2 separate regions of the Homo sapiens genome follow, and region 1 is linked to region 2. Evidence: fine-mapped QTL for protein levels in blood plasma. Region 2 holds a variant in brackets. A gene starts in the other region. All regions are shown on their forward strands.

The links. PIP is the chance, under the fine-mapping model, that this variant and not a neighbour inherited with it causes the effect. The UK Biobank Pharma Proteomics Project read protein levels with antibody pairs (Olink). The fine-mapping took linkage between variants from a reference panel, not from the people measured, so its PIPs are less certain.
Region 1: it holds the start of SPINK4, and the variant in region 2 is fine-mapped to the plasma level of the SPINK4 protein (UK Biobank, PIP above 0.99).

What each region holds. Positions count from the first base shown.
Region 1 is chr9:33,236,089-33,244,412 of GRCh38, forward strand. It overlaps SPINK4 (serine peptidase inhibitor Kazal type 4), which reads left to right and starts at 4,079. Exons shown (of 4, transcript NM_014471.3): 1 at 4,079-4,181. The coding sequence starts at 4,121.
Region 2 is chr11:1,075,360-1,083,632 of GRCh38, forward strand. MUC2 (mucin 2, oligomeric mucus/gel-forming) reads left to right here. Exons shown (of 58, transcript NM_002457.5): 2 at 292-562; 3 at 2,095-2,209; 4 at 2,593-2,683; 5 at 2,764-2,873; 6 at 2,953-3,163; 7 at 6,303-6,428; 8 at 6,926-7,043; 9 at 7,122-7,260; 10 at 7,519-7,629; 11 at 7,718-7,787; 12 at 8,066-8,203. Among named protein-coding and RNA genes, the nearest start is that of MUC2, 4.6 kb to the left of the region's middle. RefSeq lists enhancers at 2,462-2,962, 2,988-3,529. The variant T/C (reference allele first, on the strand shown) is at 7,719.

The DNA of each region.
Region 1 (8,324 bases), not on the chromosome of region 2:
GGGTTGGGATCAGATGTTGAAGGGGTGTGGTCACCAGGCTAAGGAGTTTGGGCTTCTTCCTGTTGGCAGTGGACGCCATTACAGTGTTTTGGGCAAGATGACCTGGTCAGCTTTGCTCTTTAGGACGCTTGTCCGGGACGCTGCGTGCAGAGTGATTTGGAGTGGCAGGTGGAGAGCCAGGGATATGAGACAGGACACCATTGAGGTGGCCAGGTTGGAGACAACAGTGGCCAGGACTAGGGTAGAGTGGGGGGTGTGGAGGGGCAGGGATGGATTCAAGAGCTATGTAGGAAGCAGAACCTAGACCCTCCATGGGAAGGCAAACAAGGCTGAGGGGTCAGTGCCTGGGATTCCACTGCCGGAGGTTGCTGGGATGTGGGTCAGGGGAGCAGAGATCAAGGCTTATTTAGCCCCCACTGACCATTCCAGACTCCTGTCATGGCCCTCCCCGGCTCCCTGGCCCCACTTTGCCCACATGGCTTCTCTGTTCTTCAGATGTGAGAAGCTTCTTCTTGCCTCAGGGCTCTCACACATTCTGTTTCCTCTACCTGCAGCACTGTTCCACTTGGCTACAGCCTGCCCTGCCCACTCAGCCCTTGGCGTCTCTGATCTCAGATGGATAGGTCACTCTTGGATCCTCTCACAGAACAGAGCATGTGTGGTTCATGGGACTCACTCCAGCAGTGATGATACAATGCTGCTGCCCGTTCAGTACTGTGCCTCTACTTAACCAAAGCTCCTGGAGGACAGGAACTGTATCTGACTCACTCTCTGCCATATCCAAGCACTCAGCATGGAGCATGGCACTTAGCCGCTTGTTAAACTTTTACTGAATACATGAATGGTGAATTAATGGTGAGGTTTTCTTGGATGCACTGACATCCTTAATGGGCTGTTCAATAGCAGTCGGATATAGGAGCTAGGTTCACACTTTGATGGGATGACAGATTACGAAGTTTGTTACTATGAGTGAATCTAGAAGGTATTTGTCTGAAGAGGAGACCTTGGGGTGGGCTGGGATGGTAAGTGAGCTCAGTACTCCACAGGCTGCCCTTGACTTTACTCTGTACTTTGAAGGATGCAAAATTCAAGCGTCCTGGCTCCTTGCAGCAACTAGAATGTTCAGTAGCCATTTCTGCCACGTGGATAGAAATCTAAGGTCCAAAACAAGGAAGGGATCAAATCCCTTTGCTCCCCTCTGTCCCTTCCTCACTGTAACCTGGGACACTGACAGACAGACCTGTCAGTGATCAGATGAGAAATGGAGAGAGGCCCAGGAGCTTCACATGTGCAAGGGTAGGAGGCAGGCAGATGGCAGACCTGCTCAGCCTAAAGGTGCTTGTGCAAGTACAGGAGGTTCATGCAAGTACAGGAGGCCAGAGACAAAGCTATAAGCCCCAAGGACTCTCAGGGAGGCAGACCTCTTGTGTGAGGAAGGACTGTCTTTGTTCGAAGCCATCCAACAACGAAACTGGTAGGTAGTGAGCTCCCCATCACCATGAATGACCTCCCAGTGGGGCTGCTGTAGGAAAGCCCTAGTGGAAGAAGGGAGATGAAACCCAGATGACCATTATTTTTTATTTTATTATTTTATTTATTTATGTATCTATTTATTTATTTTGAGACCGTCTGGCTCCATCACCCAGGCTGGAGTGCAGTGGCGCAATCTCGGCTCACTTCAACCTCCGCCTCCCTAGTTCAAGTAATTCTCCTCCCTCAGCCTCCCAAGTAACTGAGATTACAGGCACACGCCACCACACCCAGCTAATTTGTGTGTGTGTGTGTGTGTGTGTGTGTGTGTGTGTGTATTTTTAGTAGAGATGGGGTTTCACCATGTCAGCCAGCCTGGTCTCGAACTCCTGACCTCAGGTGATCCATGCAGCTTGGCCTCCCAAAGTGCTAGGATTACAGGCGTGAGCCACCACACCAAGCCTATTTTTATTTATTTATTTATTTATTTATTTATTTAGGCAGTTTCTCGCTCTGTCACCAGGCTGGAATGCAGTGGCACAACCTTGGCTCACTGCACCCTCCACCTCCCAGGTTCAAGCAATTCTCCTGCCTCAGCCTCCTGAGTAGCTGGGATTACAGGTATGCGCCACCACGCCTGGCTAATTTTTTGTATTTTTGGTAGAGATGGGTGTCACCATGTTGACCAGGGCTGGTCTCGAACTCCTGACCTCAAGTGAATGCACCCGCCTCAGCCTCCTCCCAAAGTGCTGGGATTACAGGTGTGAGCCATGGTGCCTGGCCCCAAGATGACCTTTAAAGTCCAATTCCCCTTTTATAAGATGGCGTTTTTGCTTTAGGACAGGAAGTCATCATTAAATATTTTCTCTACCTGCCTAAGCAATGGAAAGATAGCTGCCACCTGCCTCAGAGGCATCCCTGGGACTGTGCAGTTTCCTAAGGAGGAACGGAAGGATCTTGAAGCTGAGTCAAGGATCACTGGGGGCCTCAAGCTAGTCTTGGCCACAGGTCTGGGGCTTCTATGGGTCTGTAGAGGTGACTGGATGGCTGGTGTCCCCAAAGGGACTGTTCTTTTTTTAATTAAAAAAAAAATTTTTTTTTAGAGTTGGGGTCTTGCTATATTGCCCAGGCTGGTCTCTAATTTCTGGGCTCAAGCAATCCTCCTGCCTCAGCCTCCCAAGTGTTAGGATTACAGGCATGAGCCACCGCACCTGGCTGGGGCTGTCCTCAAACAAGAATCCTTCGCCTTGTCATTGGAATATTCTTGCAACTTATCTGCAGGCTTGAAATCTTTCGAAATAAAGTTTTTCTTTAAAAAAAAAAAACACAGATTCTGATTTAAATATTTCAGAGCGAAGCTCAGCATCTGTATTTGTAAATTCTCCCCCAGGGAAATCCAATCTGCAGACAGAGCTGAAAAACACTGATCTAAATGAATTAGAGAAACGTGTATGTAAATAAAATGTATTTTATATATCAGAAATTCTTTGAGAGCAAATATCCAAATGACTTATTAATGTATACTATGTAAGTATGGGGGAGTTTTAGAAACTGATTTTTCTTTAAAAGAATCTTGTCTTTATTTAACCTATGAAGATACAGATGAGGCCGCGTGCAGTGACTCATGCCTATAATCCCAGCACTTTGGGAGGCCGAGGCAGGCAGATCACGAGGTCAGGAGTTCGAGATCAGCCTGGCCAACATAGTGAAACCCCGTCTCTACTAAAAATACAAAAAGTTAGCTGGGCAGGTGGCAGGTGCCTGTAATCCTAGCTACTCAGGAGGCTGAGGCAGGAGAATCGCTTGAACCCAGGAGGCAGGGGTTGCAGCCAGCCGAGATCGCGCCAGGCACACCAGCCCGGGCAACAGTGTGAGACTCTGTCTCAAAAAAAAAAAAAGCAAATGAACACATAATACCTGCAAAGCAAGAAGGCATCTTCCTTTTAATGTTTTATTTTGCCTTTGTTTTGCCTGTTAGTTGTGCCCACTTTGCGGTACAAAAAAATAAGTGAAATAAAAGTAAGTAAAAATGATCATTTCTGCTTACGTTTACAGCTCATTTCATATTCTGCAAAATGTTTTCCCGTCTGCTATCACCGCCGCCATCCTCACAGCAGCCTGGGAGAAAGGCAGAGCCAAAAGTCTCATCTCCACTTCGTGCATGGGTGATCTGAGGCCCAGTTAAGAAAAGTGGCTCTACCGAGGTCCCAGAGTTGGTTGCTGGAGGCACTGGCAAAGGAATCCAGGCTCCAGCCCCCTTCTCTGCCTCCTGCCATCTTCCAGTTGCTTTTTTCCTTTCTCTCTTTCTCTATCTCTTTCCCCTTCTCTCTGCCTTGAACTCTCTCTCTTTCTACTTCAACTTTCCTCTCCTTGCTCCAACCCTCAGATTGGAGTCAGCTTTGCAAGTTGTCCAAACTTTTTGTCACTCTGGAAACCTGCCAGCCCCATGGCCACAGCCCCATCTCATCAAAAGCTCAGCATCTGCACCTAGAGCAAGCCCTTTCCGGATGTCAGCGTGCAAAGATTAACTCTGGTCTCTCCATCTGGCCCTAGATAAGATAAGATTAGGAGAGCGGCACTATAAATAGGCCCCCATCCTTCCTCAGGCGCAGGCCCCAGCCAGCTCAGGCTACACTATCCCAGGATCAGCATGGCCGTCCGCCAGTGGGTAATCGCCCTGGCCTTGGCTGCCCTCCTTGTTGTGGACAGGGGTGAGTGGGCAGAACCTGGATTCTCTGTGGCTTTGTGTTGGTAGGTGAGCTTGGGGTGAGAGCAGAAGCAGGGCCTGGAGCACCCTGTGAGGCCTCAGCTTTTTCCATGTACCTTCATTCTGCATATGCACCCTCCACTGTGCTGGGGAAAGTTCTGGGCTGGGAGAAAAGAAACTTGGGTTCAAATCCTGACTGGCGCAGAATTACCAAAGTCCCCTACCCTCTTGGGGCCTCAGTTTCTCCAGCTGTAAAAGAGGGCATTGTTCCAGTTCAAAGCTGCACTGAGCAACTATTGGGCTGGAGGCTGTGGGGACAGAAGGGAGCAGGTAGGTCCCAGCTCTCAGGAGAGACTGACAAGTATGCTGGGTGCAGGGTGGTGGATGCTAAGAGAGACCTGGCCGAGGTCTTCTGAGCTCCCGATCTCTCTGAAAGGCTGTGGTTTGGGACTTGGGCAGCCATGTGAGCACGACAGAGCCCTTTCCCAGGACTGGACACATATACTTGGGGCAGGGCCCTCTCAGGATCTGGGCCATCCCTGCAATCTCACAGCTACCATGTCAGGCACTGTTCTGAGCCCTTAAGACAGATTAGTGACCCAAACAGAAAAAGCACGGTCCTGATGGAGCATAAATCCAATGGGGTAGAGGAAAAGGGGAAAGGCAATAAACAAGATGGTTACAATGTATGTTAAACGGTATGTTAGAAGCTGATAAAAGTTAAGGAAAAAATACTTGGCAGGGTGATGGGCACTGGAAGGGGGTTGCAATTTCAAATCAGGGGAGGTATCTCTGAGAGTCCGATGTTTGAGCAAAGCTTGAAGGAGATGAGGGACTAAGCCATGTGGATATCTGGGAGAAGATTCCAGGCAGAGGGAACAGCTCAGGTGCAAAGGACCTGAGGCAGGGGCATGCCTGGAGTGACTGAGGTACTGTAAGACCAGTGTGGCAGGAGGGGACATTGTACGGAGTGATAGGAGAGGAGATGAGAGAGGCAAATTGGAACTGTACCGGGAAAGACCTTGTTGGCCAACATAAGAACTTGGCTTTTCCTCTGACTAAAATGGGAGGCACTGAAAGCTTTGAGCAGAGAGTTATGTCTTTCAAGGGTTGCTCTGGTTGGTACATTGAGAATAAACTGAACAGGGAAGCGGGGAGACCAGTTAGGACCCGCCTGGACAAAAGCCATAAGTTATAAGGCAACGCCTGGCAGGATCCAGGGCCACTGACCTCATGGCCAGTCCCACACCCATTTCCCCAGCTGGAAACAGACCTGGGCACAGGGGGAAAGGGAAACGGGTCTGGGGACCTGTTCAGGAGCAGCCTGCTTACGCCCAGCCTGGCACCTACACCTACCTACTCCTTGAGCAGTTGGGAACACTGAAAAGCCTGCTCTGAAGAAGTTTGGTTTTTGTTTGTTTGTTTTTGTTTTTGTTTTTTGCACATTTCAGACTACTGCCTGGGCTGAGTGAGGAGGGGGCATTTTGGGTCAAGGTCAAGGGCAGCCTGGGGGTAAATGTAGCTTTTCCCCACATCCCCCAGAAAGAAACTCTGACATCTTAGAGTTCTGAACACCCCCTCCTCCCAATACACTTTAATTTTTTTTTTTATTTAAACAAAAATTTTTTTTTCAAGACAGAGTCTTGCTTTGTTGCCCAGGCTGGAGTGCAGTGGCACGATCTTGGCTCACTGCAACCTCTGCCTCCTAGGTTGAAGCAATTATCCTGCCTCAGCCTCCTGAGTAGCTGGGATTACAGGCACATGCCACCACACCCAACTAATTTTTGTATTTTTAGTAGAGACGGAGTTTCACCATGTTGGCCAGGCTGGTCTCGAACTTCCAACCCCAAGATTTGCCCGCCTCGGCTTCCCAAGGTGCTGGGATTACACCAATGCACTTTAGTATTCAATTCCTGAACACCCACAGTGTAGGACATTGAACCAAGTGCTGCGCAAAGGCAGACATAAAGGAACCCCAAGGAGCTCAGGTGCATAGGGAGGCGGGGTGACCCAGTGAGTGGGACAGTACATGGTGGTGTGAAAGAAGCCTCCATCCAGATCTGCTCAGGAAACTGTTGGGGACGTCAAGGACAGCTTCACTGGGGGGCAGCATCAAGCCTTGAAAGGAGGGTATGATTCGGCGGGAGGAGAACGGAGACGAAGACATTTCAGGGAGGGGACATGGCATGAGCCAAAGCAGGGCCCAATCTAGGACCCGTGAGCAGAGAGGAATAGCTGGGGCATGGAGAGGTGTACTGGGAAGTCAGCCCAAGAAGCAAGTTTAGGGTCAGCTTACGCAGTACCCTAAACATAAGACTAAGCAGCTCAGGTCCATAGGGAGGCTTAGTGATCAGGACAGGGAACCACGGAAGGGCTTTATATTTTTTAAATGCTTTTCTTTTCCCTAACAGTTAAATATCAAGAAATGCACAAATCTTATCACTCGATGAATCTTGACAATGTATACACTCGTGTAACCCAAACCCCCATCAAGATACAGGACCTCTTGAGACAAGGACTTAGGGAAGAAAAATAAATACAGAACATTTCCATAGCCCCAGAAATTCCCCTATGTCAGTCAATCCCTGCCCCCATCCCAGTGCTCTGACACTTTTTTTTTTTTTTTAAGAGACAAAGTCTCACTCTGTTGCCCAGGCTGGAGTGCAGTGGTGCAATCATAGCTCACTGCAGCTTCAACCTCCTGGATTCAAACGATCCTCCTATCTCAGCCTCACAAGTAGCTGGGACTACAGGTGCGTGCCACCACACTCAGCTAATTTAAAAATTTTTTTAAATTTATTTTTATTTATTTATTTATTTATTTTTGAGACGGAGTTTTGCTCTGTCACCCAGGTTGGAGTCCAGTGGCACAATCTTGGCTCACTGCAATCTCTGCCTACTGGGTTCAAGTGATTCTCCTGCCACAGCCTCCTAAATAGCTGGGATTATAGGTGTGCACCACCACGCCCAGCAAATTTTGTATTTTTAGTAGATATGGGGTTTCACCATGTTGGTCAGGCTGGTCTCGAACTCCTGACTTCAGGTGATCCACCTGCCTCAGCTTCCCAAAGCGCTGGGATTACAGGTGTGTGCTACTGCAACCTGCCCTCATTGTTAAATTTTTTGTAGAGATGAGGTCTTGCTATGTTGCCCAGGCTGGTCTCAAACTCCTGGCTTCAAGTGATCCTCCTGCCCCAGCTTCCCAATGTGATTTTTTTCCATCATAGATTAGTTGGCCTGTTCTAGGATTTCACATAAATGGAATCATAGGGTATATAATCTTTTGTGTGTGGTTTCTTATGCTCAGCAAACTATTTTTGAGATTCAGCCACGTTATTGCATGTATCAGTTGCTTGTTTTAATTGTTCAGTAGTGCCCCATTGTATTTATTTATCCATTCTCCTGTTGAAGGACATTTGGATCACTTTCAGTTTGGGCAATTTGACATGGAAGGGTTTTAAGCAGTTCAGTGACAGGTCTAGGTTTGCATTTTGATACCCCAATGCCAGGCTTAAACAGCACATTGGGGTGACTTAGTCTAAGTTTCTGTTTCCCTCTCTCTGTGGAAATACCCTGTAATAGCATCTCCAGGAAAATATAAAACTACATTGCCTTGCACACCTCCAGTGATGGGAAACTCACTACTTCTGGAGAAAGCCTCTTTCACTGTGGCATAGCTCCCACTGAGAGAAAATTCTGCTTCATATGGAACCCAAACCTGCTTCCCTGCAGCCTCCTCACAGAGATGGGCTCTGCTTTGTGAGGTTGAAAAGAGTCCATCTCTCCCTCAGCCCCAGGATAGCCCTTCAGAGACTTCAGGGAGCATCCTGCCCTTCTCTAATTTACATAAACGCCCTTCCTTCCACCTGTGCCATTAGACATAGCTCCAGTTCCCTCATCCACCCATCATGCTTGTCAGTCACATCACAGTTTGCTCATGTCCTTTAAGCAGTTCAGCCAGACCTTGAGGGGTACACCAGTGTATGTAGAAAGAGTCAGGCTCTGGACTGCAACAGACGTGTGGGAAAATCCTACCTCTGCCTTAACAAACTGCATTGCGTCACCTCTTTGAGCCTCTTTCGTAGTTCGTTAAACTGACCTATGCCCCAGGAAACAGATTCTGAGCTATACATGCAATTTACTGGGG
Region 2 (8,273 bases):
CACAGCCCTTGCTGGGGAGCGGGGTGCCCAGAATGCCCTCTCCTACATCCCGCTTGGCACCCGGCCGCACTCCTCACCAGGCCGGGGGTAGAAGCCCTGAGACCCCTGTGGTGGGGTGACCAAGGCCCAGCAGAGGGCCCGAGGATAGGAAGGAACCTTTCCCGGCCAGGGGCCCTGTGCTGGGCTCGAAGCTGCTTCCAGGTGCTTCTTCAGGGGCCTTCTCTCGAGGGTAGCTTGGGCAGCCTTCCCCCTCCGGGGCCACTCACCCCTCATTCCCCGCTGCTCCCTCAGAGGGCAGAACCCGAAACCACGGCCACAACGTCTGCAGCACCTGGGGCAACTTCCACTACAAGACCTTCGACGGGGACGTCTTCCGCTTCCCCGGCCCCTGCGACTACAACTTCGCCTCCGACTGCCGAGGCTCCTACAAGGAATTTGCTGTGCACCTGAAGCGGGGTCCGGGCCAGGCTGAGGCCCCCGCCGGGGTGGAGTCCATCCTGCTGACCATCAAGGATGACACCATCTACCTCACCCGCCACCTGGCTGTGCTTAACGGGGCCGTGTGAGTGTGGTCGGTGGCACCCCTCCCACATCCTAGCAACGGGGGCTGATGTTTCCCAAAGGGATATTCCTTGTAGCCCTAGAAGACCCCTTCCGCCCCAGCACACAGCTCAGGAGAACAGCCTTGAGGTTTGGGTTCAGGTCACTAATTCATTCAACAAACACTGATGAGCCCCCACCATTCCCCCCATAGGCAAGGGGTTTCAGTTATCCCTTTGCCTGTGTGTCCCTGACAGCCCCTCCCCTCGGAGCCCACCAGGCTCCGGACAGACTTGGCACCCCTGGAGGCTGCATGTCTCTGGTCCTGTGCATGGAGTGGCCGTGTGTGCCCTCCCCAGGCTAGAGTTACAGAAGCCGGTGCAGGGGGCTGTGGGACCCCCTTCCCCATCCCCAGCTATTGCTCCCCTATTGTCTCCAGAACAATGAGGCCCTGTAAGTGCGTTCCCATCCAGCGCCTGCCCCTCTTCTGCCTGGGGATTTAGTTTCCTGCAAGGCGCCCCAGCATGGGCATGGGCAGGCGGGTGGAGGCCCTCAGGCATGGGCATGGGCAGGCGGGTGGGTAGAGGCCCTCAGGCGTGAGTGCGGGCGGGTGGGTGGATAGAAGCCGTCAGGCATGGGTGCAGGCGGGTGGGTAGAGGTCCTCAGGTGTGGGCATGGGCAGGTGGGTGGGTAGAGGCCGTCAGGTGTGGGCGCGGGTGGGTGGGTAGAGGCCCTCAGGCATGGGTGCAGGCGGGTGGGTGGGTAGAGGCCCTCAGGCGTGGGCGCGGGTGGGTGGATAGAGGCCGTCAGGCGTAGGTGCGGGCGGGTGGGTAGAGGTCCTCAGGTGTGGGCGCAGGTGGGTGGGTGGGTAGAGGCCCTCAGGCATGGCACAGGTGGGTGGGTAGAGGCCCTCAGGCATGGGCGCAGGCGGGTGGGTGGGTAGGGGCCCTCAGGCATGGGTGTTGGCAGGTGGGTGGGTAGAGGCTTTCAGGCATGGGCAGGCAGGTAGAGGCCCTTGAGGACCGAGGCACAGAGGCTGGGGTGAGTGCCTCTACCTGGACCAGCAAGGGGCACTGGCAGGAGGTGGGGTAGGGCCCCTGACGTTCTCAGGGGCAGCCTGGGGGGCTCTGGGGGGTTTGGGACCCCATGGGGGGATGTTCCACCAAGCAGGGGGCCTGGAAGGGGGCTGGGCAGCCTGGTCCTCCCTCCTCTCCCAACCTGGTGCCCTCAGGGCCTCTGAGGGGGGACCCTGCCCAGGACCGTGCCCCGAGGAGGGAGTGGAGAGGAGGGGCGTGCAGGCAGGAGGTGGCTCTGCCGGGGAAGCCCGGCCAGCGGAGATGGACAGGTGCTCTTTGGCCACTGCCTATGTCCCTCCACCCCAGAGGCCGGCCAAGTTGGTGATCCCAGGGCAGGAGCTGGGCCTGGCAGAGCCATCTCCACCACCCCAGGTGCCCAGCTTCAGTCCCCTCTGGGCGGCGGGGTCCCGGGAGGACAAGCTGGGGCGGGGGGGCCTGGGTGGTGGACCCAAGAGTGACCCCGATGTGCCTCCGCCAGGGTCAGCACCCCGCACTACAGCCCCGGGCTGCTCATTGAGAAGAGCGATGCCTACACCAAAGTCTACTCCCGCGCCGGCCTCACCCTCATGTGGAACCGGGAGGATGCACTCATGGTGCTCAGGGGTCCCCGGACTCGTGGGGCTGGTGGGGGCTCCGTCAGGCCTCTGGGCAGACCCCAAGGGAGGGCAGGGAGGGCAGTGCTCTGACCCCTCACCGAGAGGGCATGGGTGGGGCAGGGCCTCGGCAGCGCAGGGCGTCGGTGCTGGACTTGGGGGGCAGCAGCAGAAGCCGACCTGGCCCTGACCCCCCCAGGCCTCAGCCTTCCCCCAAACGCACTCGGCTTCTCAGGGACCTGCCCTGCCAGGCCGCTCCCTGGCTGCTGACCCCAGCCTTCCTGCCCCACCTTCCTCTGGCTCAAACAAGCCACGAGTCTTGGGGGTTCCTGGCGGCTGTGGGCCGGGCGGGAGGCCAGCTCACCTGCTCCCTCCCGCAACAGCTGGAGCTGGACACTAAGTTCCGGAACCACACCTGTGGCCTCTGCGGGGACTACAACGGCCTGCAGAGCTATTCAGAATTCCTCTCTGACGGTGAGGCCCGGAGGGCTTGGAGGGGGCAGGGTAGGCTACGGGCCCCCAGGAGCCCTAGCTGAAGGGCCGTGCATCCCCAGGCGTGCTCTTCAGTCCCCTGGAGTTTGGGAACATGCAGAAGATCAACCAGCCCGATGTGGTGTGTGAGGATCCCGAGGAGGAGGTGGCCCCCGCATCCTGCTCCGAGCACGTGAGTCCCCTCGGTCCGGGGTGGGGGTCCTGGCGGAGCTGGCCTCTGAATAGCATGCTCACCCTGCGTCTGTCCCCAGCGCGCCGAGTGTGAGAGGCTGCTGACCGCCGAGGCCTTCGCGGACTGTCAGGACCTGGTGCCGCTGGAGCCGTATCTGCGCGCCTGCCAGCAGGACCGCTGCCGGTGCCCGGGCGGTGACACCTGCGTCTGCAGCACCGTGGCCGAGTTCTCCCGCCAGTGCTCCCACGCCGGCGGCCGGCCCGGGAACTGGAGGACCGCCACGCTCTGCCGTAAGCCCCGGCGCCTTGTGGGCAGGGGACCCCAGGGAGACCCCACGCTGGTGCTTTCCCCAAGCCCGGGTGGGAGCTGTGTCTGTGCCGGGCACCTTGAGCTGGGGGGACACTCACCGCACCGGGCACCTTGAGCTGGGGGAACACTAACCGTGCCGGGCACCGGGAGCTGGGGGGACACTCACCGTGCCGGGCACCTTGAGCTGGGGGGACACTCACCGTGCCGGGCACCGGGAGCTGGGGGGACACTCACCACGGGCACCGAGAGCTGGGGGGACACTCACCGTGCCGGGCACCGGGAGCTGGGGGGACACTCACCGTGACGGGCACCGGGAGCTGGGGGGACACTCACCGTGACGGGCACCGGGAGCTGGGGGGACACTCACCGTGCCGGGCACCGGGAGCTGGGGGGACACTCACCACGGGCACCGGGAGCTGGGGGGACACTCACCGTGCCGGGCACCTTGAGCTGGGGGGACACTCACCGTGCCGGGCACCGGGAGCTGGGGGGACACTCACCGTGCCGGGCACCGGGAGCTGGGGGGACACTCACCGCGCCGGGCACCGGGAGCTGGGGGGACACTCACCGTGCCGGGCACCGGGAGCTGGGGGGACACTCACCACGGGCACCGAGAGCTGGGGGGACACTCACCGCGCCGGGCACCGGGAGCTGGGGGGACACTCACTGTGACGGGCACCGGGAGCTGGGGGGACACTCACCGTGCCGGGCACCGGGAGCTGGGGGGACACTCACCACGGGCACTGGGAGCTGGGGGGACACTCACTGAGGGCACCGGGAGCTGGGGGGACACTCACTGTGACGGGCACCGAGAGCTGGGGGGACACTCACTGTGACGGGCACCGGGAGCTGGGGGGACACTCACTGTGACGGGCACCGGGAGCTGGGGGGACACTCACCGTGCCGGGCACCGGGAGCTGGGGGGACACTCACTGAGGGCACCGGGAGCTGGGGGGACACTCACCGTGCCGGGCACCGGGAGCTGGGGGGACACTCACCACGGGCACCGGGAGCTGGGGGGACACTCACCGTGCCGGGCACCGGGAGCTGGGGGGACACTCACCGTGCCGGGCACCGGGAGCTGGGGGGACACTCACTGAGGGCACCGGGAGCTGGGGGGACACTCACTGTGACGGGCACCGAGAGCTGGGGGGACACTCACTGTGACGGGCACCGGGAGCTGGGGGGACACTCACTGTGACGGGCACCGGGAGCTGGGGGGACACTCACCGTGCCGGGCACCGGGAGCTGGGGGGACACTCACTGAGGGCACCGGGAGCTGGGGGGACACTCACCGCGCCGGGCACCGGGAGCTGGGGGGACACTCACTGAGGGCACCGAGAGCTGGGGGGACACTCACTGTGACGGGCACCGGGAGCTGGGGGGACACTCACCGCGCCGGGCACCGGGAGCTGGGGGGACACTCACCGTGACGGGCACCGAGAGCTGGGGGGACACTCACTGTGACGGGCACCTTGAGCTGGGGGGACACTCACCACGGGCACTGGGAGCTGGGGGGACACTCACCGCGCCGGGCACCGGGAGCTGGGGGGACACTCACTGAGGGCACCGGGAGCTGGGGGGACACTCACCGTGCCGGGCACCGGGAGCTGGGGGGACACTCACTGAGGGCACCGGGAGCTGGGGGGACACTCACTGAGGGCACCGGGAGCTGGGGGGACACTCACTGAGGGCACCAAGAGCTGGGGGGACACTCACCACGGGCACCGAGAGCTGGGGGGACACTCACCGTGACGGGCACCGGGAGCTGGGGGGACACTCACCACGGGCACCGGGAGCTGGGGGGACACTCACCGTGACGGGCACCGGGAGCTGGGGGGACACTCACTGAGGGCACCGGGAGCTGGGGGGACACTCACCACGGGCACCGGGAGCTGGGGGGACACTCACCGCGCCGGGCACCGGGAGCTGGGGGGACACTCACCACGGGCACTGGGAGCTGGGGGGACACTCACCACGGGCACTGGGAGCTGGGGGGACACTCACCACGGGCACCGGGAGCTGGGGGGACACTCACCGTGACGGGCACCGGGAGCTGGGGGGACACTCACCACGGGCACCGGGAGCTGGGGGGACACTCACCACGGGCACCGGGAGCTGGGGGGACACTCACCACGGGCACCGGGAGCTGGGGGGACACTCACCGCGGGCACTGGGAGCTGGGGGGACACTCACCACGGGCACTGGGAGCTGGGGGGACACTCACCACGGGCACCGGGAGCTGGGGGGACACTCACCGTGACGGGCACCGGGAGCTGGGGGGACACTCACCACGGGCACCGGGAGCTGGGGGGACACTCACCACGGGCACCGGGAGCTGGGGGGACACTCACCACGGGCACCGGGAGCTGGGGGGACACTCACCGTGCCGGGCACCGGGAGCTGGGGGGACACTCACTGAGGGCACCGGGAGCTGGGGGGACACTCACCACGGGCACCGAGAGCTGGGGGGACACTCACTGTGCCGGGCACCGGGAGCTGGGGGGACACTCACCACGGGCACCGGGAGCTGGGGGGACACTCACCGTGACGGGCACCGGGAGCTGGGGGGACACTCACCACGGGCACCGGGAGCTGGGGGGACACTCACCGTGCCGGGCACCGGGAGCTGGGGGGACACTCACTGAGGGCACCGGGAGCTGGGGGGACACTCACCACGGGCACCGAGAGCTGGGGGGACACTCACTGTGCCGGGCACCGGGAGCTGGGGGGACACTCACCACGGGCACCGGGAGCTGGGGGGACACTCACCGTGACGGGCACCGGGAGCTGGGGGGACACTCACTGAGGGCACCGGGAGCTGGGGGGACACTCACCACGGGCACCGGGAGCTGGGGGGACACTCACCACGGGCACCGGGAGCTGGGGGGACACTCACCGTGCCGGGCACCGGGAGCTGGGGGGACACTCACCACGGGCACCGGGAGCTGGGGGGACACTCACCACGGGCACCGGGAGCTGGGGGGACACTCACCGCGCCGGGCACCGGGAGCTGGGGGGACACTCACCGTGGGCTGAGAGCCCTTCTCGGTGCACTTCGGGGTGGAGCGGCTGCTGTGCCCCAGCCTCACCCTCACTGCGTGGCCTCTGCGGTTCCAGCCAAGACCTGCCCCGGGAACCTGGTGTACCTGGAGAGCGGCTCGCCCTGCATGGACACCTGCTCACACCTGGAGGTGAGCAGCCTGTGCGAGGAGCACCGCATGGACGGCTGTTTCTGCCCAGAAGGTGCGTGTGGAGGATGGCCCCGCCCTGGCACTGCCCACCAGATGAGAGGCAGCCCTGGCCTGGGGTTCTCGCCTGCGCTGAGGGGACGGCTCCGCTGGGTGGTGGGGGCAGCGGCGGCACAGAAGTGCCTCTCCCTCCACCCGATACCGGGGGAGAAGGGGCCTCGGTGTGAGGCCCTTCCCAAAGGGTGGCTTCAGGGAGGCCGGGAAGGGGGCTGCCTTCCTGGTTATCACCCTGGGGACAGACCTCCTCCTGCCCGGCCCCTGGCCTGGTGCCTGAGGCCTTTGGGAGCAGCTCGATTGTCAGGGGCAGGAAGGTGGCCTGGAGGCTGGACCCCCATGGCCAGACCCCAACCCAGGGACCAGGTGGGGACCGCAGGCGTCAGCACAGGGGACCAGTGGTGCCTGCGGGTGGGAGGCCTGGCTGGCAGCCCCTCGGTGGGGATTCTGGCTCTTTCTGAGCCAGCCGGGGTGACATCGCCTCCCTGGCTGTCCCAGGCACCGTATATGACGACATCGGGGACAGTGGCTGCGTTCCTGTGAGCCAGTGCCACTGCAGGCTGCACGGACACCTGTACACACCGGGCCAGGAGATCACCAATGACTGCGAGCAGTGGTGAGTCCCGGGGCCAGGGCTGGGCACAGCAGAGGCTGGGGCGGCTGAGCCCTGACCCTGTGCCCCGCTGCCCAACAGTGTCTGTAACGCTGGCCGCTGGGTGTGCAAAGACCTGCCCTGCCCCGGCACCTGTGCCCTGGAAGGCGGCTCCCACATCACCACCTTCGATGGGAAGACGTACACCTTCCACGGGGACTGCTACTATGTCCTGGCCAAGGTAGGCTGCCCAGGGTCTGGGGCATGGGGCAGAGCTGGGGCTGGCATCCAGGCCCTTGGCTGTCCCGGGGTGGGTGGGCTGGCTGTCCCTGAAGCAGAGGGTGCCTGTGGGCTGTCCTGGGGCAGGTGACCATGCTTCTGCTCTCTGGCTGGAGAATAAGAAGCAGGCCTTCCTTTCTAAGCCACTGCCGGGTCCTAGGGTGCAGGGTGCTGCCCGTCCCGGCCCTCAGCAGCTGCACTGCCTCTTGCCCCATCACAGGGTGACCACAACGATTCCTACGCTCTCCTGGGCGAGCTGGCCCCCTGTGGCTCCACAGACAAGCAGACCTGCCTGAAGACGGTGGTGCTGCTGGCTGACAAGAAGAAGAATGTGAGTGGTCCTGCCCCCTCCTTCTGGAGCCCCAGGTCCCCCGAGGGGGGCCCTTCTCAGCCCTGAGCAACCTCGGCCTTCCCTGCAGG[T/C]GGTGGTCTTCAAGTCCGATGGCAGTGTACTGCTCAACGAGCTGCAGGTGAACCTGCCCCACGTGACCGGTGAGTTGCGCCCCAGGGAGGGGCCCGGGCCCTTCGAGCTCCACTGGGCCTGCAGTGATTCGGACAGTCCAGCCACCTCGGACCCAGGAGGCTGGGTGGGAAGGTTCCACGGGGGGAGGGTCCCTGCGGCACCCAGCAGGCTCCGTCCTGGGTCCTCTGCTGGAGGGGGTGGTGGGAGGGTGACACCCTCCCGCTGCTCACCTGGGCCAGGCAGGTCCCGGGAGCCCCGCCCCTCGCCATGCCCCTTACCGTGTCCCTCATCGTGCCCCTGCCCACAGCGAGCTTCTCTGTCTTCCGCCCGTCTTCCTACCACATCATGGTGAGCATGGCCATTGGCGTCCGGCTGCAGGTGCAGCTGGCCCCAGTCATGCAACTCTTTGTGACACTGGACCAGGCCTCCCAGGGGCAGGTGCAGGGTAAGTGGCCCCACCGGGGTTGCCCCAACAAAGGCCCACAGGGGGGCCTGCTAGCCCCAGACTCTTCCCA